7 linked regions of the Homo sapiens genome follow. The protein of the gene in region 5 purifies or fractionates together with the protein of the main gene of each other region. This does not show direct contact. Each region holds a gene or a part of one and is shown on either strand. Other genes may lie near its edges. The genes, in order: EPB41L3, EIF2AK2, EPB41L5, SEC16A, MIDEAS, CLTA and ZMYM3.

What was found.
Region 1: the proteins of MIDEAS (region 5) and EPB41L3 purify together in Homo sapiens (affinity purification with mass spectrometry; one large-scale study listed by BioGRID and IntAct). This does not show direct contact.
Region 2: the proteins of MIDEAS (region 5) and EIF2AK2 purify together in Homo sapiens (affinity purification with mass spectrometry; one large-scale study listed by BioGRID and IntAct). This does not show direct contact.
Region 3: the proteins of MIDEAS (region 5) and EPB41L5 purify together in Homo sapiens (affinity purification with mass spectrometry; one large-scale study listed by BioGRID and IntAct). This does not show direct contact.
Region 4: the proteins of MIDEAS (region 5) and SEC16A purify together in Homo sapiens (affinity purification with mass spectrometry; one large-scale study listed by BioGRID and IntAct). This does not show direct contact.
Region 6: the proteins of MIDEAS (region 5) and CLTA purify together in Homo sapiens (affinity purification with mass spectrometry; one large-scale study listed by BioGRID and IntAct). This does not show direct contact.
Region 7: the proteins of MIDEAS (region 5) and ZMYM3 purify together in Homo sapiens (affinity purification with mass spectrometry; one large-scale study listed by BioGRID and IntAct). This does not show direct contact.

The regions. Positions count from the first base shown.
Region 1 is NC_000018.10:5,414,998-5,418,497, reverse strand, and holds part of EPB41L3 (band 4.1-like protein 3), read left to right. Parts: intron 1-2,119; coding exon 2,120-2,680; intron 2,681-3,500. UniProt on the Homo sapiens protein: Tumor suppressor that inhibits cell proliferation and promotes apoptosis. Modulates the activity of protein arginine N-methyltransferases, including PRMT3 and PRMT5.
Region 2 is NC_000002.12:37,132,981-37,136,480, forward strand, and holds part of EIF2AK2 (interferon-induced, double-stranded RNA-activated protein kinase), read right to left. Parts: intron 2,567-3,500; coding exon 2,504-2,566; intron 1-2,503.
Region 3 is NC_000002.12:120,019,577-120,023,076, forward strand, and holds part of EPB41L5 (band 4.1-like protein 5), read left to right. Parts: intron 1-3,500. UniProt on the Homo sapiens protein: Plays a role in the formation and organization of tight junctions during the establishment of polarity in epithelial cells.
Region 4 is NC_000009.12:136,459,041-136,462,540, forward strand, and holds part of SEC16A (protein transport protein Sec16A), read right to left. Parts: intron 2,235-3,500; coding exon 2,137-2,234; intron 1,084-2,136; coding exon 1,002-1,083; intron 835-1,001; coding exon 717-834; intron 516-716; coding exon 404-515; intron 200-403; coding exon 94-199; intron 1-93. UniProt on the Homo sapiens protein: Acts as a molecular scaffold that plays a key role in the organization of the endoplasmic reticulum exit sites (ERES), also known as transitional endoplasmic reticulum (tER).
Region 5 is NC_000014.9:73,736,304-73,739,803, reverse strand, and holds part of MIDEAS (mitotic deacetylase-associated SANT domain protein), read left to right. Parts: coding exon 1-1,244; intron 1,245-2,471; exon of another isoform or gene 2,472-2,506; coding exon 2,507-2,806; intron 2,807-3,500.
Region 6 is NC_000009.12:36,197,421-36,200,920, reverse strand, and holds part of CLTA (clathrin light chain A), read right to left. Parts: intron 3,371-3,500; coding exon 3,333-3,370; intron 1,943-3,332; coding exon 1,825-1,942; intron 1-1,824. UniProt on the Homo sapiens protein: Clathrin is the major protein of the polyhedral coat of coated pits and vesicles.
Region 7 is NC_000023.11:71,244,141-71,247,640, reverse strand, and holds part of ZMYM3 (zinc finger MYM-type protein 3), read left to right. Parts: intron 1-130; coding exon 131-296; intron 297-948; coding exon 949-1,046; intron 1,047-1,128; coding exon 1,129-1,288; intron 1,289-1,542; coding exon 1,543-1,655; intron 1,656-1,798; coding exon 1,799-1,973; intron 1,974-2,155; coding exon 2,156-2,302; intron 2,303-2,747; coding exon 2,748-2,851; intron 2,852-3,170; coding exon 3,171-3,339; intron 3,340-3,500. UniProt on the Homo sapiens protein: Plays a role in the regulation of cell morphology and cytoskeletal organization.

The sequences.
Region 1 (3,500 bases), on a different chromosome or scaffold from region 5:
AACAAATATGTGGTTCTTCTTCTTAGTTATTCTAACATTTTATAAACTCGCCATGCCAACATAAGATTCCCATGGATGTATAAGTATTGAAGAAGTGACACATCAATGTAAGTGATTTTTAGTTTTGCTCCCAAGATAAGGCCGGACATTTTCACTTTATTTGCTTTTAAAAGACCACCAGTTTGTTTATATAAAACGTAGCACTAAGCTGTCCTCACTTGGTGCCATTTGTGATGTGGGAAAAGACAAAGGACACTACCAGCCTCATAGCCTGAGTCTCTGAGAAGCCAGCACTCTGGGCAGAATGTCTTCAGGAAGTCTGTAGCTGAAATCTGGTGCTCATATAGGTGTGGGCTGGCTTGGTTTCCCCAGTGCAAAGCTGTCTTCTAGAAATGACTTTAATAATCAGCATGGAAGGTTAAACCTTAATTTTATCCTTCTCCTTCTTCAAAAAGTAACGCAGAGGGTACTTACTTTTCAACCAAAATGAAAGTGTATTACTGAAAATAGTTCTTGAAAGGCTGGTCCCCTAGGTTGCCTGGGAAGGAGGCACGTTTCCCAGGCTGGGATCCCCTGGGTCATGGGGCTGCCTCACCTCCATGCTGGAGGACAGTTGTCTTCATGCAGAAGTTAATGTGTAGCAGCTACATTATTCTTAGTTGAATGAGATTTGTGCAGGTTCCTGTTTAAAGTGCCGTCTTTAATGTCAAATGCAAATGTGTGGGAAAAGACATACTTCTCTCATCGTAAAAAGAGACCCTTCAAAGGCCGAAGAGCTACGATTTTATTTGTGCATTTTCTTTCCCTCATGCCTCAGATGTAACTTTATTTGTGCATTTTCTTTCTGTCGCTATATTTACCACTTCTCCCCAAGTCAGGATTGCATAACCACACAAGGCAGGCTGGGTAATTTCCATGCTGTCAGGCCACTGGGCAAAACACACACATACACACACGCAGTGACACAGACATCAGCAGAAGTCTAATTACTTTCAGGCTTGGATTTCCCGGCCTGCAGCAGCTGCTGTACCTGCCCAGGTCCTGCTTGGGGCTTGCGTGCTTTCCTTCCTCCCCTTCTTGTCCAGCAACCCCTCCGCCACCTGCAGAGGAAACTGGCCCTGGTCGTGGAGACTTCCAGGACCCAGAGAGGAGGAGAAGCAGATTCACTTGCCCCATAAAAGCTTGAGCTCACCAGGGGAGCACCTGTGGAAAACCCTGCTTTTATCATTATATTAAGGACTCAAACCAAAGATCTAAATATGCCCTTTATCTGCTAAGAAAAATCAGAAGGCTGGGAAATTATATCTTTCTGTTATTATGCATCATAAATAATAGAAAGTAAATACTGGCAAAGCATGTTACAAGAAAACACATTGTTTTTGCTAGTTAGCTTGTTGAAATCACTTCAGTTGAAGTTCCACTAATATCCTAAATAAAGGAGCCAAAATAGAGCTTTCAAGGGAACTTCAGTTCTTTTCTGAGGAGTGAGATATTCAGAAATGCTAACTGTCGAATCCCTGATTGTAACTACTTATCAGATAGGAGTGGGGCCAGAAACTTCTTGATTTGGAATGTAAACTCCTTGTTTTGGATGTAATTGAATAACCAGGGAAAGGACTAATGCTAGAGATTGGTTTTTTTTTTTTAATCAAAATCTGGATTGGATTTCATCTTCATTTTTAATCTAGCTGAACTATAGTAACAGCTCTGCTACCTGGAAATCAGGAGAAGGCTATTGAAAGTCTTCATGTTAAGTTATCAGATTTACTTATGTTTGCTCCCCAAAACCTGAAACTTTCTAGAGTTGTTAGTCTAAAGGGAAATTTTTTGACCATGTGAAATGTGTAGACTTTGGGATTGCCCACAAATACCTTCTGTTCTGAGTTTTTAAAGAATTCCACCTGTATGTGATAGTCTCATGGGAGAAATGTAGCCGTTCGTGGCAACAGTGGCATGCAGCTTGAATACTTTAACATTCATGAGCAACCCTAGTGCTAAAATTTTTGTTTTACAATTTTATATTGATACCCATAAGAAAATTAACTAATTGCAGTTTTCTTTTTGTCCTTTTGCACCTCTGTTTGCTGCTTTCTGTCTCTTTCTGTCTCTTTCACATCAGTCACCTGGGCTTGGCACTGACTCATGTCCCTTGTCACCCCCATCCACCCATTGTGCCCCCACATCTCCCACAGAGCTCCGTAGGAGGTGTAAGGAGAATGACTGCAAACTGCCAGGTTATGAGCCGTCCAGAGCTGAGCACCTGCCTGGAGAGCCCGCCTTGGACTCTGATGGCCCAGGGAGGCCTTACCTAGGGGATCAAGATGTGGCTTTTAGCTACAGACAGCAAACTGGCAAGGGGACCACCCTGTTCTCCTTCTCCTTGCAGCTCCCTGAGTCATTCCCCTCCCTCCTAGATGATGATGGATACCTCTCTTTCCCCAACCTTTCTGAAACCAACCTCCTGCCCCAGAGCTTGCAGCATTACCTCCCGATCCGCTCACCGTCCCTTGTGCCCTGTTTCCTCTTCATCTTTTTCTTTCTGCTGTCTGCCTCCTTCTCAGTGCCATACGCTCTCACTCTCTCCTTCCCTCTGGCTCTGTGCCTCTGCTACCTGGAGCCCAAGGCGGCCTCCTTGAGCGCCTCCCTAGACAATGACCCGAGTGACAGTTCAGAGGAAGAGGTGTGTACCTCGGCATAGAACACGCTTCCCCTTCGTGTTCCGTGCTTGAGTCCGAAACAGTGTTAGCTGGCTGCTGCCATAGTGGTCCTACTTTCAGAGCCTCATTTATTGTCTGTGCCAATATGTTGAGGTTTCTGTGTGTTGGGGAGTCCAACCTGGGCCCCAGGGTTAGGCACAACACCATGTGGATGTAGCAGTCTGAGCCCAACCCGGAATCGTTCTGCTACCCACTGAGTTCTACGTGGGATGAAAGACTCAGCCAGAAGTCAATTTTATATAACCCGTCAGCTGTGTAAAAGATCAGGGCTAAGCTAAAGGTTCTGATCAGTTATGGTTTAATAAGGTAAATCACATATAAGACAGATGATGAGTAGTTTTCAACTTAAATGACAGTCAAGGAGAGGTGGAAGAGTGCATCCCCGGAGGGGATGTATCATCATCACCTGGGTAGCTTTCTAAAGTTGCAAAGGTATCTCCTCCCTGGAGATCCTGAAATGTCCCCACCACCCTCTGCTCATCATTGCCAGACAGTCATTGTTACTCACAGAGAGGTCAGTCAATCAGATCCCGCATTGTATTGTGTCAGAGCAGTTTAAAGCACCCACATGACATCAGCCATTGGTAAGGGCAGAAACAAGCCCAGAAGCAACGGCATGCAGTGCAGCAGTGTTCAGACACAATCAGAAAAGGACTAAATTGAAGTTTTCAAACAATGTAAAGGCAGGCTGAAATTTCACCATGCTAGCAATGCCAATGCAGATAATATGACAGCGATTCTTTCAACTGCAGTATGAGTCTCAAAATCCCCCCATTTTCACAG
Region 2 (3,500 bases), on a different chromosome or scaffold from region 5:
AGGTTCAGGGTGCCTCCTTCTTTTCAATCTGATAATGGTCCTGAATTCATTTCTCAAATTACTCAAACACTTGCACAAGCCCTACGAATCACCTGGAAGCTACACATCCCCTATCAACCCCAGTCTTCAGGAAAGGTTGAAAAAATGAATGGCATTCTAAAAATCACCCGCACCAGGTACTCACTCCAAACACATAAAGACTGGGTTACACTTCTAGCTTTGGCCCTCCTAAAAATTCGGGCACTCTCACGTAAACCTTTAATGCTCATCCCCTTTGAACTCATGTATGGGAGTTTTGAGCATAAGTATTTGAACTCATGCTCCTTTTGTTCCACCTCAGGGTCAAGCCCCACCTCTAACAACCCCTCTCATTTCTCCTCTTCTGCATATCATCTGCCATTTCATTTGGGAATATGCTGACAAAATACAACTCCTTTAATCCCTTCCTACAGTCAGGAAACTGGGTTCTGGTAAAAGGTCCCAGCCCTACCCCCAATTCCCCCCTCACACCAAAATGGAAGGGGCCTTACCAGATCTTCCTCACTACACCCACAGCAGCAAAGCTCCAGGGACTCCCCAGCTGGTTTCATTATACTTCTCTCAAGAACACAGACTTCCCTTCACTACACATCCAAACAATCAAATCTAAACCACCTTCAGCCTCTCTTGTGTCTCCACAGGATCCACTTCCCTTCATCTCACATGAATGCCGGAGGAAAAGGAAGAGAAATTCACCTAAGCAGCTATGTCTCTTTCTCTCCCAAACTTTCATTGCTTCCTAACTAGCCTTGTTACAGACCTTCAGTGGTATCCTTATGAAACTCTCATTATACATCCTGATCAGCTCCTTACTATTCCACGGGATTTATGGCTTCAAGGAACCTTCCAGGACTTTATTCCTACCCAAACTTTTTCCTCCTTTTGTTGTTTCTTTCTATCTAAATTCCCTAATCACATCAACCTCACCGATACAACCACTCCTCACTGCTATCAAACTAGAACGTTCTATAAACCTTACACAACCCCTCTTGCTGCAAGCTAACTCTTCCTTTGCTCCAGAATGCTGGATGTGTTTATCGCTGTCTTCTTCAGCTTATACATCCCTTCCTACACCCCTTCATGACCTTTTAACAGAAAACGTAACCCTAATCTATAAACTCCAAAAAGGAGCTTCCTTTTTTGAAAGAGCTGACAGTCTGGTTGGCGATTATCCCACTTCCAAGGTCAATCAGGCCAACACATTATTTCAAACCTATTACAACTCCCTACAACGCCTTAAGCCACAAGGCCCTCCCATTGAAGGGCCCATAATTAAACACACCCCACTTTTACAACAAGCCTCACTTTGCTTTTCAGCCTCTGAGGGAAATTTCCGTGTAAGATCCTTAAACCTAACCAATGCAACCGCATTATCATTGTTAAACACCCTGCTGACCATCAAACTAACCGAGTTGACTACCAAGTATCACCTGAAACGAATGGAGCATTTCTGCAACCTGTTCGTTTTGCAGCCTCTCCCTCAACCAATGCCTCTGGCCTAATTTGTGCTGCCCCTAGCGCCCACCTTTATCCATGGCTCAACATCAATGCAATGGTGCAACATCAAATCGTATTAAATGTGTAAAAAATAACTCTTCCTATATCGCTACTATAGTGGGTGTCTCCTTGACCTCCTCCTTGACCACCTGGAGTAATGAACCATAGGAAAGAAAAAACACCCATCTTTAATTCACTTGTTTTCTTTCTGTATCTCCAACTGTATTTATGACAAAGGCTTATTTTTTGTGTGAGTGGCACCAACACATATCTTTGTCTCCCCACTAACTGGACTGGAACCTGTACCCTAGTTTATCTTTCTCCCTCCATTGGACTAATTCCTCCTAGCCAACCTTTGCCCATTCCATCCATCCAATACGTTAGGAAGAGGAGGGCCATCCACGTCATTCCTTTAATGGCTGCCTTGGATATAACCTCCAGACTTGGATTGGGAGCAGGCAGATTGGCCACTCCCTTAACATACTTTAAAGCTCTTTCCACAGAATTACAGGGTTCTTTAGAAGATATAGCCTGAAGCATTATAAGAGTCCAAGACAAACTAGACTCCTCGGCTGGAGTAGTCCTCCAAAACAGATGGGGACTAGATCTAATAATGGCTGAAAAAAGGGACCTCTGCCTCTCATTGGGTGAGGAATGTTGCTTTTATCTCAACCAATTGGGCCTAGTAAGAAACGCTGATGAAAAACTTAAAGAAAGGGCTAAAAAGCTAAGGGAGTATCAAAACAACCAACTAGATTCTTGGTTTGGGAACAAAATCATAATATGGGTCATCCCATTCCTGGGCCCCCTCTTAATGATAAGCCTAAGACTATTGTTCTTACCCTGCGTAGTTAATCTTATTCAAATATTTTTAACTGACAGGATCATGGCCATTTCACAGACAACTACCAAAAACATCCACCGACAGCATTACCCCTTCTTCTTTCTTCAGCACTTAAAATCTTACCTCTTGTCCACAGTATACTTTGTTTCTTTCATGTCAGGAAGGTCAAATCTGGGTGCCAAAGATCTAAAAATTAAGAGTTGAATGTAAAACTCAAATAAAATTGAAATCAAATATAACTTATTTAGTGTTAATGTTAACCTTTTTCTTTCTTTTTTTTTCTTCAGAGGCAAGGTCTCACCCCATCTCCCAGCCTGGAGTGCAGTGGTGTGATCATAGCTCACTACAACTTTGAAATTCTGGGCTCAGAGGAGATCCTCCCACCTCAGCCTCCCAGGTAGCTGGGATTACAGGCATGTGCCACCATACCTGGCTAATTCTTTTTATTTTTAGTAGAGACAGGGTCTCTTCATGTTACCCAGTCTGGTCTCGAACTCCTGGACCCAAGCCATCCTCCCACCTTGGCCTCCCAAAGTGCTGGGGATCACAGGCGCAAGCCACAGCACCCAGCCAACTTTTTTCTTTATAAAACTATATACTTACCGTTCTCCTCTGGCCTCTAATACTTTTTCATCCCTCCTCTGGTTCCTTTTTCCACCTTAGAGTGCTCATTGTTGATGCGTCACTAACCTCTCCTTTTCCTCCTCCAGACTCAAAACCTCAGGAAGTACATCTCCTTACACCCTCATCCTAGCTGTTATTCCTTACTGATGATAAGCCACCTGCAAATGGAAGTTTAAATACCACCTAAAACTAAACATATCCAAACTGCTGTCTTCTCTCTAAGCCCTTAACTCCTTAACTTCCTTAACACCATTAGTGCCATGGTTCTTGACTGCATCCTGTTCAAAGTGAAGCAATCTTCAAATCCTTTCTCCTTTACCTCTCCTTCATGCTTTCACTCAGCTACGGGGAACCTATTCCCTCAAGTCATGTCCACTCTTCCTTTACAGTCTTTCTCACACATTCTCCTCATCCCTCCTGACTGCCACAGTAATCGTGGCTGAGGGCACCTCATGTGCAGAACTCTCTTCTCTCCATCCAAGCATCCACATCAAGA
Region 3 (3,500 bases), on a different chromosome or scaffold from region 5:
AGTGGATTTCTGACAATCCTTGTTGAACCATTATTAAAACGTTGTGAATCTTTGAGAATAACAACACTTAAATGTGTACTGTAAGACTTTTAGCTTCTATGCACTTCTGTATTTTTTAAAACTCTCCTTACTTTCTTCTAAATAAATATTTCCCCACAATTTGGTTTACTTGCAGACATTAATGAGGTGAAGTGAGAAAAAGGACTTTCTTCATACCCCTCAGCTCTGACTGCCTGTCTCTTTGCTCCTGAAGTATTTTGCATTGTAGGTTTTTCATACACTGTAGTCTTTATCTCAAGACAGGCTGTTGTAATTATATTTGCATTTTGGATAGATTTTTTTTTTTTCAGAAATATATAATCATAACTCAGTGTGAAACAATCTGACATGTTTGAAAGGGGTTAGCTTATTTTTTTACAGGACTTTTTGGGTGGAGGAGGGGAAGAAAAGGTTGGCTTTTTGGTTTTGGGCAGTTGAATATTTTTCTGAGTTGCTTGCTAATACCAAATCTCTTTCTCATGTCTTTGTTCTGCATTCAAAGACTTAACGGTAAATTACATCATTTGATGTGAGCTTCATAGGATATTCCTTAATGTCTTTTCTCCCCACAGACTTTTTAGTACACACTCATCTACCCAAAATTCAATTTAAAAAGTCTCTTTGGGCAAAGTGATAGCCTACGTGCTGCTGTAATACATAATTGAATAAGCTCGGGAAGACCTTAAACTCACCAAGTGAGAGTATAAGGAATTGGAGAGTTTGTTTAAATGGATGTTCTGATTAACTTAATAATTTGGAATGTATTAGATATGTACATTATACATTTTAAAATATTAGAATATGATAAAATTAATCAAAGACTCAGGATTTCTTGAAGTGTTTTGAAGTCATCATTACGTGTATTTGTTATCTTTGTCTATAAGAATGTATATTTTTAGGGTTTTTGATTCTGGACAACTTGAAAGCATCTAAATTTTCTTCCTGTAAGTGCTTCTTGAGGGTTTATCAGACATTCCAACATGAGATATTTTGTGAGGATAGTTTTCATACTCATTTCTTATTTGATAGGAATCTTAAGAGTTTTGTTTACTATTTCATTAAAATATCATTGGATATGTGGTGAAAAGCCTGAGATTGCTGTGTAAGAGACTGGAAAGAAATTTCTTATTACCTAATGTTTGAAGTATGAAGTTTCAGGGTTGTTGATGGACAAGCTGATAGTAGGAGAGTAGAATTTGTAAAAAAAAAAAAAAGAGGTTTTTAAAAACGCAGTGCAGTATGGAGGAGAAACAACACTAGCTTTTAAAGTGGTGGAACAAATGGCTAGTTACTGATCTGGAATGGTTTCCTAAACTTTGTATGCTTAGCTGGGTGTATGTGATGCTTGATCAAATTTATAAACTAGCTGGTCTCTCATGGGGACAATTGTAGTGAAACAGCTGGAGATATAGATTGGACTTTTTGTGAAACAAGAACAGTTGTCAGCCAGGTGCAGTGGCTTATGCCTGTAATCCCAGCACTTTGGGAGGCTGAGGCAGACAGAACCCTTAGGCCAGGAGTTCGAGACCAGCCTGGCCAACATGGTGAAACCCATCTGTACTAAAAATACAAAAATTAACCGGGCGTGGTGGCATGCGCCTGTAGTCCCAGCTACTCAGGAGGCTGAGGCAGGAGAATCACTTGAACCTGGGAGGTGGAGATTGCAGTGAGCTGAGATCGCGCCACTGCACTCCAGTCTGGGTGACAGCAAGACTCCGTCTCAAAAAAAAAGAAAAAGGAACAATTGGGCCAGGTGCAGTGGCTCACGCCGGTAATCGCAGCACTTTGGGAGGCCGAGGTGGGCGGATCACAAGGTCAGGAGTTTGAGACCAGTCTGGCCAACATAGTGAAACCCCGTCTCTACTAAAAATACAAAATAGCTGGGTGTGGTGGCGGACGCCTGTAATCCCAGCTACTTGGGAGGCTGAGGCAGGAGAATCGCTTGAACCCAGGAGGCAGAGGTTGCAGCGAGCTGAATTCGCACCACTGCACTCCAGCCCGGGTGACAGTGCGAGACTCCATCTCAAAAAAAAGGAACAACTGTCTTTCCAATTCTGTAGGTGAAATCGTACTTATTAACCTAACTCTAGGTACGTGCATGGATATAAAGTGGTCATTGGCCTGTTTTACTAAATTGTCACTAAAGGAAAAAATAGTCCAGAAGAATAATAATTTCTAAAAAAGAAGAAATGATTTCCCCTTTTCAGATTTATTTTCTCAACCAGTCTACTGTGATTCTGGGAGAAGATTTAGAATTGATTTTAGAAATTGAATGAAGCACATACTCATTTCCCATTACGATAAGGGTCTAGGATAAGGGTCACTAGTGATTATAGTTAGCCGTCTTCTTCCTTTAAAGAAAAAAAATTAAATAGGGTGAGAAGGCCTTTCAGTGAATGACAAAGGTATCAGGTAGAAATTTCTATCTAATTTTTAAGTTTTTTCTTTGAAAATACGACAGTAAACTTGTTTAAGAGCTTAGTATTGGTAAATAGCTTTAATGTAAAACCCTTATAAGTTTTAAATTGGGAAATGTTTGGTCAATTAACCAATAGATAACAATTTTTTTTCCTTTTTTTAAATTGTACTTTAAGTTCTGGGATACATGTGCAGAACGTGCAGGTTTATTACATAGGTATACACGTGCCATCGTGGTTTGCTGTACACATCAACCCGTCATCTACATTAGGTATTTCTCCTAATACTATCCCTCCCCTAACCCCCCACCCCCCGACAGGCCCTGGTGTGTGATGTTCTCCTCCCTGTGTCTGTGTGTTCTCATTGTTCAGCTCCCACTTATGAGTGAGAACATGTGGTGTTTGGTTTTCTGTTCCTGTGTTAGTTTGCTGAGAATGATGGTTTCCAGCTTCATCTGTGTCCCTGCAAAGGACGTGAACTCATCCTTTTTATGGCTGCATAGTATTCCATGGGGTATATGTGCCACATTTTCTTTATCCAGTCTATCATTGATGGGCATTTGGGTTGGTTCCAAGTCTTTGCTATTGTGAATAGTGCTGCAGTAATCATACATGTGCATGTGTCTTTACAGTAAGATGATTTATAATTCTTTGGGTATATACCCAGTAATGGAATTGCTGAGTCAGGTGATATTTCTGGTTCTAGATCCTTGAGGAATTGCCACACTGTCTTCCACAATGGTTGAACTAATTTACACTCCCACTAACAGTGTAAAAGCATTCCTATTTCTCCACATCCTCTCCAGCACCTGTTGTTTCCTGACTTTATTGATGGCCATTCTAACTGGCATGAGATGGTATCTCATTGTGATTTTGATTTGCATTTCTCTAATGGCCAGTGATGATGAGCTTTTTTTCATATGTTTGTTGACTGCATAAATGTCTTTTTTTGAGAAGTGTCCATTCATATCCTTCACCCACTTTTTGATGGGGTTGTTTGTTTTTTTCTTGTAAATTTGTTTAAGTTCCTTGTAGATTCTGGAT
Region 4 (3,500 bases), on a different chromosome or scaffold from region 5:
GATACCAATTCAAACAATCTAAGTAGCCAAAAGCTTGTTAGCACTGAGTGCCTGCCCAGCCATGACAGCTGCAGGCTGGCAGCACCTGCTTACCTGGAAACTAGGCAGGGGGCAGGTCTCGGCACCCAGGGACTGGGCGTACTCATAGGCTTCCGTCCTCTGGATTGCTTCGTTGGTTGCGAACTTTAAGAATGGCAAACTGTAGAGGAAGTGAATTATTTTGATTTGGAAAAAATGGCCAATTATTGGCATAGTCAACCTTGGAGCAAATCATCCAGAAGTGTGTCCCACCACGTGACAAATAAAGACATGATTCTGGCCATTTCTGAATTCACTAAAGGAGAAGGATTTTGTTTTACTTTGAAAGGAAAACTTACAGGACTACACTGACTTGGTTCTTTACCTGTGATTGGATCCGATTAAGACAAGCTTTGTAGTTTTCTTCGTGTAAACACCAAATCCCGCCTGGGCCATGAGGTAGCAGAAGTGGGCCGCATCCAAGAGGCCCCTTGAAGCTGCGGAGAGACGACACGACACACGGCGGGGGCTCAGCGACCGGGAGCGCTTGCAGAAGTCAAGGACGCGCACAGAAGGCACCAGAGACGCCAGCCGGACCGAGAAGGCCGGGTTCTGGTGATTTCTGCCAACGCCACAGACAACCGGGCCTTCGGCGCTCCATCCGCGACACCCAATGCCCATCTCCACCCCTGACCTACCCAGAGTGTCGCCCATGGTAGCCATCGTCCTGGACTCGACGTCCATGTTGTTGTTCAAGTTGGACAAGACCATGGCGAGGTGCGGCCTCCAATCTCCCCATTTCTCGTCTCCACAGCACTAACATGAGGAAAAACAAAACGAAGCCTCATCCCCGGAAGCCAGCGCCATTTCAATTCCACACAGCTGGGCTCACCAGGCACCTCACGGCCTGTGACAGCGTCACCCACGAGCAAACTCCACACAGGCAGTGGAGCCTGTGCAAGCCACCAGGCAGTGCCACTCACCGTGGACGCGGCAGGCATCCGTCCGGACATGAGCTGGTAGACTGTCTGCAGAGGGTCGTTGATTGGGAGGCTGTTAGCAAACCTAGGCAGACATAAACACAGAAAGACCCCATGCTGGCTCAGCTAAAAGAAAAAAGCCGGCCGGACATGATGGCTCACGCCTGTAATCCCAGCACTTTGGGAGGCCAAAGTGGGCGGATCACCTGAGGTCAGAAGTTAAGAGACTAACATGGAGAAACCCCATCTCTACTAAAAATACAAAAATTAGCCGGGTGTGGTGGTGCACACCTATAATCCCAGCTACTCAGGAGACTGAGGCAGGAGAATCGCTTGAACCCAGGAGGCAGAGGTTGCAGTGAGCTGGGATCGTGCCACTGCACTCTAGCCTGGGTGACAGAGCAAGACTCTGTCTCAAAAAAATAAATAAATAAAATAGTAATAAAATAAATTTTTTAAAAAATCAGCCCTAAGCCCTCTGATGTAATGATTAGACTTATATTTCACTTAGGCAAAGTACACACATCTCAATATTTTATTTTTCTTTCTTATCTCAATATTAAAAAAAAAAAAAAAGCTGTAAAAGATAAGGCCAGGTATGGTGGCTCACGCCTGTAATCCCAGCACTTTCAGAAGGCCAAGGCGGGCAGATCCCTTGAGGCTAGGAGTTTTGAGACCGGCCTGGCCAACATGGCAAAACCCACCTCTACTAAAAATACAAAAAATTAGCTGGGTGTGGTGGTGGGTGCCTGTGGTCTCAACTACTTGGGAGGCCAAGGCGTGAGGATCACTTGAACCTGGGAGGCAGGGGTTGCGGTGAGCTGAGATCGCGCCCCTGCACTTCAGCCTGGGCAACAGAGCAAAACTCAAAATTTAAAAAAAGCTATAAAAGATGAAGACTGAGGAATTCACTGAGATTTTACATGAAGTACTAAAAACCATGCAGTTAATTAAAAACTTTTTAAGCTCTCCACAACACGACCCAAGGAAGCCTCGAGGCCAAGGAAGCCCGAGTTCGTGTGGGAGCACAGCACAGTCAAGTGAGATCCGCCTGCCGCCTGCCCCCAGGGTGCGGACGCCGCGTGCTACAGGGAGCCAGCAGGGCTCGCCACTGGACCAGGCCACTGTGGGACTGTACCTGGTCATGACTCGGGCGTGTGTCCGGCTGTCCATCTTACTTGCAAGTAGCAGAGCGTGACCCCACAGGCCATTCTTCATTGCAGACTCCAAAGCATCCTGCAAAAGGCATTTCAGGGACCTTGGTGGGTTATCGGCGGCGCTCACGTGACATGAGTCAAGACAGGCCATGTGTCCTCACGCAGCAGCAGATACACAAACAACCCAAAGGCCTCAAAAACACACTTATTCACCATTTGGAGACTAAAGACACGTAGCGATTCATTATTTTCCTGAGTTTCAAAGTCCCTGTGGTAGTGGGTATTTGTAGATATTTGCTGCTTTTATCCATTTTCAGCATAAAACACAAGCACGCTAATCACAAACAGGGCTAATCACGCAGCGCTGCCCACCACGCCGCCCCATCCACTGGGAAACACGCTCGAGTCAACTCCCCAGTTCTAACAGGAGGCCTCCGCGAATATCCTGTCAACACGGAGAGTGACTCCAGTAAGGCAGCCTCCCCTTTCACCAAAATCATCCAGGGCATAATTTAGAACTTCTGGCTGGGAGGCAAAAACGTTACAGTAGAGAAAGATGTTAATAAAAGCTAACAGGTTACATGACTTCAATCAGTTATAAAACATCCATAATAGACTCATACTGATCAGGCCGGGCGCGGTGGCTCATGCCTATAATCCCAGCACTTTGGGAGGCCAAGGTGGGCGGATTGCTTGAGCCCAGGAATTCGAGACCAGCCTGGCAACATGGTGAAACCCCGTCTCTACAAAAAAAAAAAAAAAGTTAGCCAGGCGTGGTGGCATGCAGCTGTAGTCCCAGCTACTCAGGAGGCTGAGATGGGAGGATCACTTGAACCCAGGAGGTCGAGGCCACATTAAGCTGTGATCACGCCACTGCACTCCAGCCTGGGCAAGAGTGAGACCCTGTCTCAAAAAAAATTAAAAATAAAAAAATAAAAATACTGGTCAAATATGCCCTTTCTGAGTTTATCATGATATAAAAGGACAGAAAACTCTCAGCCTATCCCATGTCTCTGCTGTTCAGGGCCACACATGCTTCTGAGACTGGCCTCTCTCCTGCTTAGCACATCCAAAGCAAACATCATGCACCCTAGACAGCCCCTCCTGTGCACATAGTGTCACTGCTGCAGTCACTATGGACCCCCCAACCCCACTGTCCCAGAGCAGGCTCCTGTCTCAGGCCCCCCACCTGCCCCAGTCCCCACGCTGCTGTGACCCCAGTCACTGGACGCTACACGCACTGGCTGCTCTCTTGCCCATGGCCTTTCCATGCACTGCGCCTCTGACAGGTTCAGTGTGCCCTCCCAACTCCCAATGACTTCTGGGCTGTGGACTCGAGTCTGAC
Region 5 (3,500 bases):
GCCTGGCCCTGCTGAACTCTGTGGTATATGGGCCTGAGCGGACCTCAGCAGCCATGCTGTCCCAGCAGGTGGCCTCAGTAAAGTGGCCCAACTCTGTGATGGCTCCAGGGCGGGGCCCGGAGCGTGGAGGAGGTGGGGGTGTCAGTGACAGCAGCTGGCAGCAGCAGCCAGGCCAGCCTCCACCCCATTCAACATGGAACTGCCACAGTCTGTCCCTCTACAGTGCAACCAAGGGGAGCCCGCATCCTGGAGTGGGAGTCCCGACTTACTATAACCACCCTGAGGCACTGAAGCGGGAGAAAGCGGGGGGCCCACAGCTGGACCGCTATGTGCGACCAATGATGCCACAGAAGGTGCAGCTGGAGGTAGGGCGGCCCCAGGCACCCCTGAATTCTTTCCACGCAGCCAAGAAACCCCCAAACCAGTCACTGCCCCTGCAACCCTTCCAGCTGGCATTCGGCCACCAGGTGAACCGGCAGGTCTTCCGGCAGGGCCCACCGCCCCCAAACCCGGTGGCTGCCTTCCCTCCACAGAAGCAGCAGCAGCAGCAGCAACCACAGCAGCAGCAGCAGCAGCAGCAGGCAGCCCTACCCCAGATGCCGCTCTTTGAGAACTTCTATTCCATGCCGCAGCAACCCTCGCAGCAACCCCAGGACTTTGGCCTGCAGCCAGCTGGGCCACTGGGACAGTCCCACCTGGCTCACCACAGCATGGCACCCTACCCCTTCCCCCCCAACCCAGATATGAACCCAGAACTGCGCAAGGCCCTTCTGCAGGACTCAGCCCCGCAGCCAGCGCTACCTCAGGTCCAGATCCCCTTCCCCCGCCGCTCCCGCCGCCTCTCTAAGGAGGGTATCCTGCCTCCCAGCGCCCTGGATGGGGCTGGCACCCAGCCTGGGCAGGAGGCCACTGGCAACCTGTTCCTACATCACTGGCCCCTGCAGCAGCCGCCACCTGGCTCCCTGGGGCAGCCCCATCCTGAAGCTCTGGGATTCCCGCTGGAGCTGAGGGAGTCGCAGCTACTGCCTGATGGGGAGAGACTAGCACCCAATGGCCGGGAGCGAGAGGCTCCTGCCATGGGCAGCGAGGAGGGCATGAGGGCAGTGAGCACAGGGGACTGTGGGCAGGTGCTACGGGGCGGAGTGATCCAGAGCACGCGACGGAGGCGCCGGGCATCCCAGGAGGCCAATTTGCTGACCCTGGCCCAGAAGGCTGTGGAGCTGGCCTCACTGCAGAATGCAAAGGTGAGAGTGGCATGCAGTGGAGCCACACCTGGCAGAGGGCATCAGGCTGATAGGTGGGCGGCTGCAGGATTTGCTTCTTGCCTAGGGAAAGCCAGACTTTGCCCTAGCCAGCTGCCTGTGGGAAAACAGTACAAAGACCACCCTTCACCTTGCCACAGGGTTCTTGCTTACTTTCTTTTGCAGAAATATTTTTTGAATAATTAGATACTATTTCAGATACAGATAGATACAGATCACCGGGTTCAAGTGATTCTCCAGCCTCAGCCTCCCCGAGTAGCTGGGATTACAGGCGCCTGCCACCATGCCTGGCTAATTTTTGTATTTTTAGTAGAGACAGGGTTTTACCATGTTGGTCAGGCTGGTCTCGAACTCCTGACCTCGTGATCTGCCTGCCTCAGCCCCCCAAAGTGCTAGGATTACAGGCGTGAGCCACCGTGTCCAGCCAGAAGCACTTTCTATAGAAGAGAACAGTGTGAGGCTAGGCGCAGTGGCTTATGCCTATAATCCCAGCACTTTGGGAGGCCAAGGTGGGTGGATCACTTGAGGTCAGGAGTTGGGAGACCAGCCTGGCCAACACAGCAAAACCCTATCTCTACCAAAAAACACAAAAATTAGCCAGGTGTGGTACTGCACGCCTGTAATCCCAGCTACTGGGGAGGCTGAGGTGGGAGAATCATTAGAACCTGGGAGGCAGAGGTTGCAGTGAACCAAGATTGTGCCACTGCACTACAACCTGGGTGACAGAGTGAGACCCCCTGTCTCCAAAAAAAAAAAAAAAAAAAAAAAGTGGTCGGAGAAAAGGTAGTCAGGGAAAAAGGTCAAGTTGTGAGACCACTGGGAGCCACTGTGGGTGTTTGAGTCCCGTGACTAAATGGGAATGAGGGTCCTAGATCAAATCAGAATTTATCTTTTATTTGTTTATTTATTTATTATTGAGACAGGGTCTCACTCTGTCACCCAGGCTGGAGTGCAGTGGTTCGATCTCGGCTCACCGCAGCCTTAACTTCCTGGGCTCAGGCAATCCTCCCACCTCTGCCTCCCAAGTAGCTGGGACCACAGGAGTTTGCCACCATGCCCAGCTAATTTTGTTTTATTTTCTGTAGAGACGAGGTGTCACTATGTTGCCCAGGCTGGTCTTGAACTTGTGGCGTCAAGTGATCCTTTAATCTTGTCCTCCCAAAGTGCAGGAATTATAGGCGTGAGCCACTGCGCCTGGCTATGACTTACCTTTTAAATTGCACTTCTGTTCCCATCTTGTCCAGGATGGCAGTGGTTCTGAAGAGAAGCGGAAAAGTGTATTGGCCTCAACTACCAAGTGTGGGGTGGAGTTTTCTGAGCCTTCCTTAGCCACCAAGCGAGCACGAGAAGACAGTGGGATGGTACCCCTCATCATCCCAGTGTCTGTGCCTGTGCGAACTGTGGACCCAACTGAGGCAGCCCAGGCTGGAGGTCTTGATGAGGACGGGAAGGGTCCTGAACAGAACCCTGCTGAGCACAAGCCATCAGTCATCGTCACCCGCAGGCGGTCCACCCGAATCCCCGGGACAGATGCTCAAGCTCAGGTATGAGAGGCGCCCCTTCTAAACACCTCCAGCGCGTGAGTGCTCAGGGGGCCCAGGACCCTATGGGGAAAGGAGAACATGGCAATGTAGGAAGGTATCAGGGAACCTGTGGAGATACTATTTTTATTTTCCAAACCAAACTTCTGGACAGACGTCCAGAAGGGGCATTTGGAGATGTCCCCCTCCTAATGGGGGATGAGACAGTTTTATACTTGAAATTGAAACTGCCTAGAATTGAATTCTAGGTTGTGTACATCTCTTTTTCCAGATCAGCAAATTCTGATTTGGCCCGTGCTGGGTGCTGGGAATGAGAGGTGTTTGCTTGTACTGTCACTACTGAGATCTTGACATCTTTTTTTTTTTTTCTGAGGCAGAGTCTTGCTCTGTCACCCAGGCTGGAGTGTAGTGGCGCAATCTCGGCTCACTGCAACCTCCGCCTCCTGGGTTCACACCATTCTCCTGCCTCAGCCTCCCGAGTAGCTGGGACTATAGGCGCCCACCACCGCGCCCAGCTAATTTTTTGTATTTTTAGTAGAGATGGGGTTTCACCATGTTAGCCAGGATGGTCTCGATCTCCTGACCTCGTGATCCGCCCACCTCAGCCTCCTAGAGTTTTGGGATTACAGGTGTGAGCCACCGCGCCTGGCCGACATCTCCTTCTAAGATTGAGGTTTTGCCTACTTTTTCTTTAGGT
Region 6 (3,500 bases), on a different chromosome or scaffold from region 5:
GAACAAGCAAGGACCAAAGCTGTTAGGACCTATTTTCATCTTCCTACAGCTCCACTGTCCAATATGGTAGCTACTAGCTACATGTGGCTACTTCAATGTAAATTTATTAAAATTAAAGAAAATTTAAAATTCAGTTTCTCAGTCACACTTGAATTGTGAAGCCACACTTCAAGTACTTAACAGTTACATGTGGTTAGTGGCTACCATACGAGACAGCACAGATACAGAATATTTCCACCAAAGAAATCACTAATGAATGGTGCTATAAAGGTTCAAATACTAAGTGCATTCTTTGTTCTGAAAGCCACCTAAATTGGACTAGAGAGATAAATGATTTGGCACTAATTGGCTGTGTCATCTGGGTCATGTCCCTTCCTATTTCTGGGTGTCAGTTATCCCATCTGAAAAATAAGGACTCATGTTTTCACTAGTTCAACAGTTCCCAAGAGGGAATAATACTGCTGACGTTGTGGTTACATAGGAGAATGTCATTATTTCTAGGAGGTGTACATTGAAATATTTAGACACAAAGTATATGATGTCTTTATCTTAAAGTAGGTCAGCCAAAACAATTTGTGTGTGTGTATGTCTAAAACATATCATTTATATAAAGATAATCCATTAATTACTGAATCTGGGGGTGCACATGTTTATTTTCCTCCTTTCAATTGTTCTGTAAAGTTGAGAAAAGATGAATCTTAAAGTCAGCTGATTAAAAAAAGAAAAAGAAAAAACAAAGAAAAGGCCACAATGTGGATTATATCCTCACACTCTGCATACTTCTCCAATCCACCATGTACAGACACAAGTCTCCCCTGATCATGAACCAACAGGTGACACTCCACGTACACATCTCTTTATCAAAGGCCAGGCTGTGTGGCTAGATGGCCACGCACATTAAATGTTTAGAAAGCAATGTGGCTGATGGGGATGGGTAGTGACTTTGAAGCAAGGCAGACTTCAGCTGAAATTGTGACTCTTACCATTCCTTAGCTGAGTATTCCAAATACTTATTCTACCTCTCCTCCACTTTTCTTACCTGTAAAATTGTAAAACTTACCTTACAGAGATATTAAGGTAGGAAAAACAAATTGTACATTTTTTCCTAACATACCTCATTTTCCTCGTGTTACTTTAAATTCATTTAGCCTTCAAATAAAAAATGGAGGCCGGGCGCGGTGGCTCACGCCTGTAATCCCAGCATTTTAGGAGGCCAAGGTGTGTGGATCACAAGGTCAGGAGATCGAGACCAACCTGGCTAACACGGTGAAACCCTGTCTCTACTAAAAATACAAAAAAAAAATGAGCGGGACGTAGTGGCGGGCGCCTGTAGACCCAGCTACTCAGGAGGCTGAGGGCAGGAGAATGGTGTGAACCCGGGAGGCAGAGCTTGCAATGAGCCGAGATCGCACCACTGCACTCCACCCTGGGTAACAGAGTGAGACTTCATCTCAAAAAAAAAAAAAGAAAAAAGAAAAAAGAAAAATGGACTGTTAAAGTCCACGGACATAGGAAACTTGAATCCTTCAAGTTTATAAAGCACTCTATAAACACCACCTGAGGCTACTCTTGAGGTCAGGAGCAGCATCACTATGCTCTTCCTGTGAGAGGATCTTGGGGATCTCCGGCTACCCTACTCCTCACACAATGGCCTGTGATTAGGCATCTCTGTGCAGGTAGCCTTGTAACCTTCAGGCTGAGAAGATATCTTCCCAAAGACCAGACAATGACACTGGTTAATGTGAGCTAAAAAGGAATAAAAGTAGAGTCCAGCTCAACTACTCCACTGAAAACAGACACCAAAACACAGAAGGGATTCCTTACCAAGGGCTTCCAAGCGTTCCATTTGTTCTTCTCTCCATTTACGGATACTTTCAGGCTCTGACTGCAATCGATCCACTTGTGAAATAGCTGCATAACTGTCTGTTGGACCATTACTTTCCTTAACACAAAACACAATTGTGCTATATTAATACCAAAAATTCCTTCCTAAAATGCACTTCACCTGAGTTAGAACCCCTGGTTCTGTTTTTTTTTTTTTTTTTTGAGACAGAGTTTTCACTCTTGTCGCCAAGGCTGGAGTGCAGTGGCACGATCTCGGCTCACTGCAACCTCCACCTCCCGGGTTCAAGCAATTCTCCTGCCTCAGCCTCCCGAGTAGCTGAGATTACAGGTGCCTGCGCCTGGCCTATGTGGTTGCTTTTTTTTTTTTTTTTTTCTGGGGTGGGGGAAGGGGGGACGGGACAGGGTCTTACTCTGTCACCCAGACTGGAGTGCAGTGGCGCAATCTTGGCCAACTGCAACCTCTACTCCCCGGGTTCAAGCAAATTCTCCTCTTGCCTCAGCCTCCCCAGTAGCTGGGATTACAGGCACATGCCACTACCGCCTGGTTAATTTTTGTATTTTTAGCAGAGACGGGTTTCACTGTGTTGGCCAGGCTGGTCTCGAACTCTTGACCTCAAATGATCCACCCACCCCAGCCTCCCAAAGTGCTGGAATTACAGGCGTGAGCCACCGTGCCCGGCCTGTGTTGTTGCTTTTAAGGTAATCCTTTAACATTTTACAAAAGCCGCCATTGTTGTTAGAAACGGGTTCTGCAGTGAGCCAAGGTTGCGGTGGCTCTGGCGGGGTGCGGTGGCTCACGCCTGTAATCCCAGCACTTTGGGAGGCCAAGGCGGGATGGTCACTTGAGCCCAGGAGTTCAAGACCTGCCTGGCCAACATGGCGAAACCCCATCTCTACTAAAAATACAAAAAATTAGCCGGGCGTGGTGGCATGCGCCTGTAATTCCAGCTACTCAGGAGGCTGAAGTGGATGAATCGCTTGAACCCAGAAGGTGGAGGTTGCAATGAGACAAGATCGTGCCACTGCACTCTAGCCTGGGCGACAGTGAGACTGTCTCAAAAAAAAAAAAAAAAAAAAAGACTCAAATAAATGTTAATCTTTACAAAATTATTCCATATGCCACTCACTGAACTAAGGAATATTAATATTACCAGGTTAACCTAATCAGACTATAAACAAAGATGGAAGGAGAATTATTTAAAGTATTAGTATTAACTTACTGCACTCAACACAGTATCATTTGAATGGTGATTTCTTTAGAATAAAGGTGATAACACTAGGGGCAGGTAAATAACATTTTTAAACAGTTCTCTTTTTATCAATGCTACCTCTCTTTAAATCTTTCCACTTTGGTAGATAACACACCAGCCAGTAATACATTCAGGAAAGTCAAAGGACTGGGGTTTCTTTCTAGGTCAGTCAATTAAAATCACAGGAAAGGAAGATTCTCAATCACTATCAATGAACAGAATCAGAGTACTCTGTACCTGGTAGTATTCACCATTCATTACTCCATCAACAGCATCTGCAAGACATAAGATTTTGGTCTATCAATAAGGACTGGTCAAACACTGGGCCAAAGGGTTGTACAGTAGAATACAGCATCATATGCTGTATGAACCTTGAGCTACTAAATGCTATCCCTGTGGTAGGTG
Region 7 (3,500 bases), on a different chromosome or scaffold from region 5:
GAGGGCAGCCAGCCTTCCATCTCTAAGCTGGCCCGATCTCCAAGGGGAGGAGCATGGCTTATCCCGGGGGAAAGAAAGGGCCCAACGCATTTTAGGGAGGCAGGTCTGACCATCCTTTTGACATCCTCAGGCTGCCCGGTGCCATGCGTGTAAGCGCCAGGGGAAGCTGCTGGAGACCATCCACTGGCGTGGGCAGATCCGTCATTTCTGCAACCAGCAGTGTCTTCTGCGTTTCTATAGCCAGCAGAACCAACCCAACCTGGATACCCAGAGTGGGCCCGAGAGCCTCCTGAACAGTGAGTCCCAGGCAGGGGGTACACTCTGTTAGAGGGAGCCTGGACTCTCCTAATCCTAAGCCTAGCCCCTTTCTCCTTCCTCTTGCGTTCAGCTCACCCCTGGCCAGATAGGGTGCTAGTACTGTGAACTGTATTCTCTTTTAGCTTCCGAACCCTGCAGGTACCGGGGGAGTCTTATTTAAAGCTTCTTGGAGTTAGCATCTACTGATTGTCTATGAAATATATATTGTTAGGGAGTGGGTGCCTTTCCTGGTAGGATGGAGCATATAGGGGTTATGGTTACGTTTCTGAGATAAGGAAATCTCAGCATAAACTCTACATTTAGTGAGACTGAAGACTGCTATTTCTAGAATGTTACCCCTGCCCCTCCACAACTCCAGGGATAACAGACTCTTCAGGCTATCTAAGTGGAAGGTCTCAAATGTGGGTTTTGGGGGAAAATGTAATGTTTCATTCTCCAGGAACAAATAATCTTTTAGGCTGCTATTGCTGGGGCATAGAGGAGACTAGATCTGGGATGGCAAGGGGGTCAAATCCTAGAAGTTCCCATCTGTATTTGGTGTACCTGTTAATGAAGCTCTCCTGGAACAGGGGTAAGGAAAATGGAGAGCTAGTCCCTTGGATGAGAGCATTCATTTGTTTTGATCTACAGGTCAGTCTCCTGAGTCAAAACCCCAGACACCCTCTCAAACCAAAGTGGAGAACAGCAACACAGTGAGGACCCCAGAGGAAAATGGGAATTTGGGCAAGGTCGGGGCAAAAGCCAAGGGGGAGGATAATCTCAGAGGAGGGTACGGCGGTTGGTGGCACAAATGTTCCTCTGTCTTTGCAGATCCCTGTGAAGACCCGATCAGCTCCCACTGCTCCCACCCCTCCACCCCCACCACCCCCAGCAACACCCCGCAAAAACAAGGCTGCCATGTGTAAGCCACTGATGCAGAATCGGGGCGTCTCCTGCAAGGTGGAGATGAAGTCCAAAGGAAGTCAAACAGGTGAGCCAGGGTACCTCGATGCCACAGGCTGTATTCCAGAGTCCTAGGCCTGCCAGCCCTATGTCCGTGAGCTGGACAAGGGGATTTCTTAGGTAGCTGAAGCCTCATTCATATGGTTGTCCTAGAATCATAGAGGTGTCTTTCAGCCTTTGATTCAAGGGCAGTTTTGTGACACTGAGCATGTTAGAGCTTTTGGTGGGTCAGATGTGACCAGTCCAGCAGGGTCTCTGAGAAGACCCCTTTCTTATCCACAGAAGAGTGGAAGCCACAGGTGATCGTGCTGCCCATCCCAGTGCCCATCTTCGTGCCAGTGCCTATGCATCTGTACTGCCAGAAAGTCCCGGTGCCTTTCTCGATGCCTATCCCGGTGAGTTTCCCTGCCCTTCCTGGCTGGGTCCTCCTTTCCCCTTACTCTCATCAACTGTCCCCCTTCACTCATCATCTGTCCCCCCAACTTCCCCCCAACTGCTGGTGTGGTTCTTGGCATTTAGTTGGGATTCGTGCCTCCAGGTGCCTGTGCCCATGTTCTTGCCCACTACCTTGGAGAGCACAGACAAGATTGTAGAGACCATTGAGGAGCTGAAGGTGAAGATCCCTTCCAACCCCTTGGAGGCCGACATCCTGGCTATGGCAGAAATGATTGCAGAGGCTGAGGAGTTAGACAAGGCCTCATCTGACCTTTGTGGTATGCCATAGATGGTGGCGACGAGGGAGACAGGGTGCTACCAGCATGTCTCTGCCCGAGGGGGTGGTATTGGTGATCTTGGTGCCTAGTAGAATGGGAGGATAGTTGGGATCAGTCCCTGAAAGCTTGTGAGGGTGCTAGCAGGAGCTTGTAACCACTGAGCCAACTTCTCTGCTTCCCAGATCTTGTGAGCAACCAGAGTGCAGAGGGACTCCTGGAAGACTGTGACCTGTTTGGGCCTGCTCGAGATGATGTCCTGGCCATGGCAGTCAAGATGGCCAATGTCTTGGATGAGCCTGGGCAAGACTTGGAGGCAGACTTCCCTAAGAGTGAGTAAGATTGGAGCCATGCCCACTGAGTATGGTAGCATTTGTGCCATCAGGAAGGGAGTGTCCCTTGTGTCCCTGAGCATGACCCTGAAAAGTGTTCATTGTGATTCTAAGACGGAAGGTTCTCACAGGGAGCAGTGCCAGAGACACCAGGACAGGTGCACTCTTTTAGACTTCTGAGTCATGCTTTTTTTTTTTTTTTTTTTTTTTTAATTTTTAAGCTGAAAAAAAACATAAAATTTTACCATGTTCAACATGTTTACGGTTCAGTAGTTCACATTGCTGTGTTTTGCGTTTCTGTGCCTCTGAGCATGCTTTTTGGTATAGCTTTACTGGTTCCTTTGGCTCATCTAGTGTCAAGTGGGCAAGTAGCAGGGGTGGGGCAGGAGGGCTGCAGGGTTGAGATCTTAAGAAATTGATTTCTTCTTTCTTTCCTTTTCATTAGATCCTCTGGACATTAATCCCAGTGTAGACTTCCTCTTTGATTGTGGCCTGGTAGGGCCTGAGGATGTGTCTACTGAACAAGACCTTCCCCGAACCATGAGGAAGGTAGGGCTGGGGCTACTGTATGTACAAAAGAAGAATGGAGGCCCAAAGGGGAGATGATGCGAGAGCCAAGCCAGCAACCATAGTTTGACCTTCCCTAACCTCCTTTCTCCAACACTAGAAGTACTGAGATAAAGCCAAACTTTGCTCTCCCCCCATCTCACAAGGTCATCAAAGCTGTTCCTGGGGCTCTGTGCTATGGAAGCTTGCTGTGTGCTTACATCAGCCCCTGCCCCGGCCAGCAGTAAATATGGTGCTGACTAGCTTTCACCTTGCCTCTGGCCTTACCTCTGCCATGCCCCTGCTTTCTCTTCCCCTCCAGGGTCAAAAGCGGCTGGTGCTTTCCGAAAGCTGCTCCCGGGACTCCATGAGCAGTCAGCCTAGTTGTACCGGGCTCAACTATTCATATGGTGTCAATGCTTGGAAGTGCTGGGTGCAGTCAAAATATGCCAATGGAGAAACCAGCAAGGGTGATGAGCTGCGCTTTGGCCGTAAGTACTTGGGGATGGGGGGTGTGGGGAGGCAGGGACAGGGAGGAGGAGGGGAAAGGGGAGAAGGGGCTGGGCCTGTGATTCAGCTGAAGATGTCTAGAAGTGATAAGGGTGTGATCCCTTAAGGATGCCCTGTGAAGATGGGGAGGAGTTGTAGATTA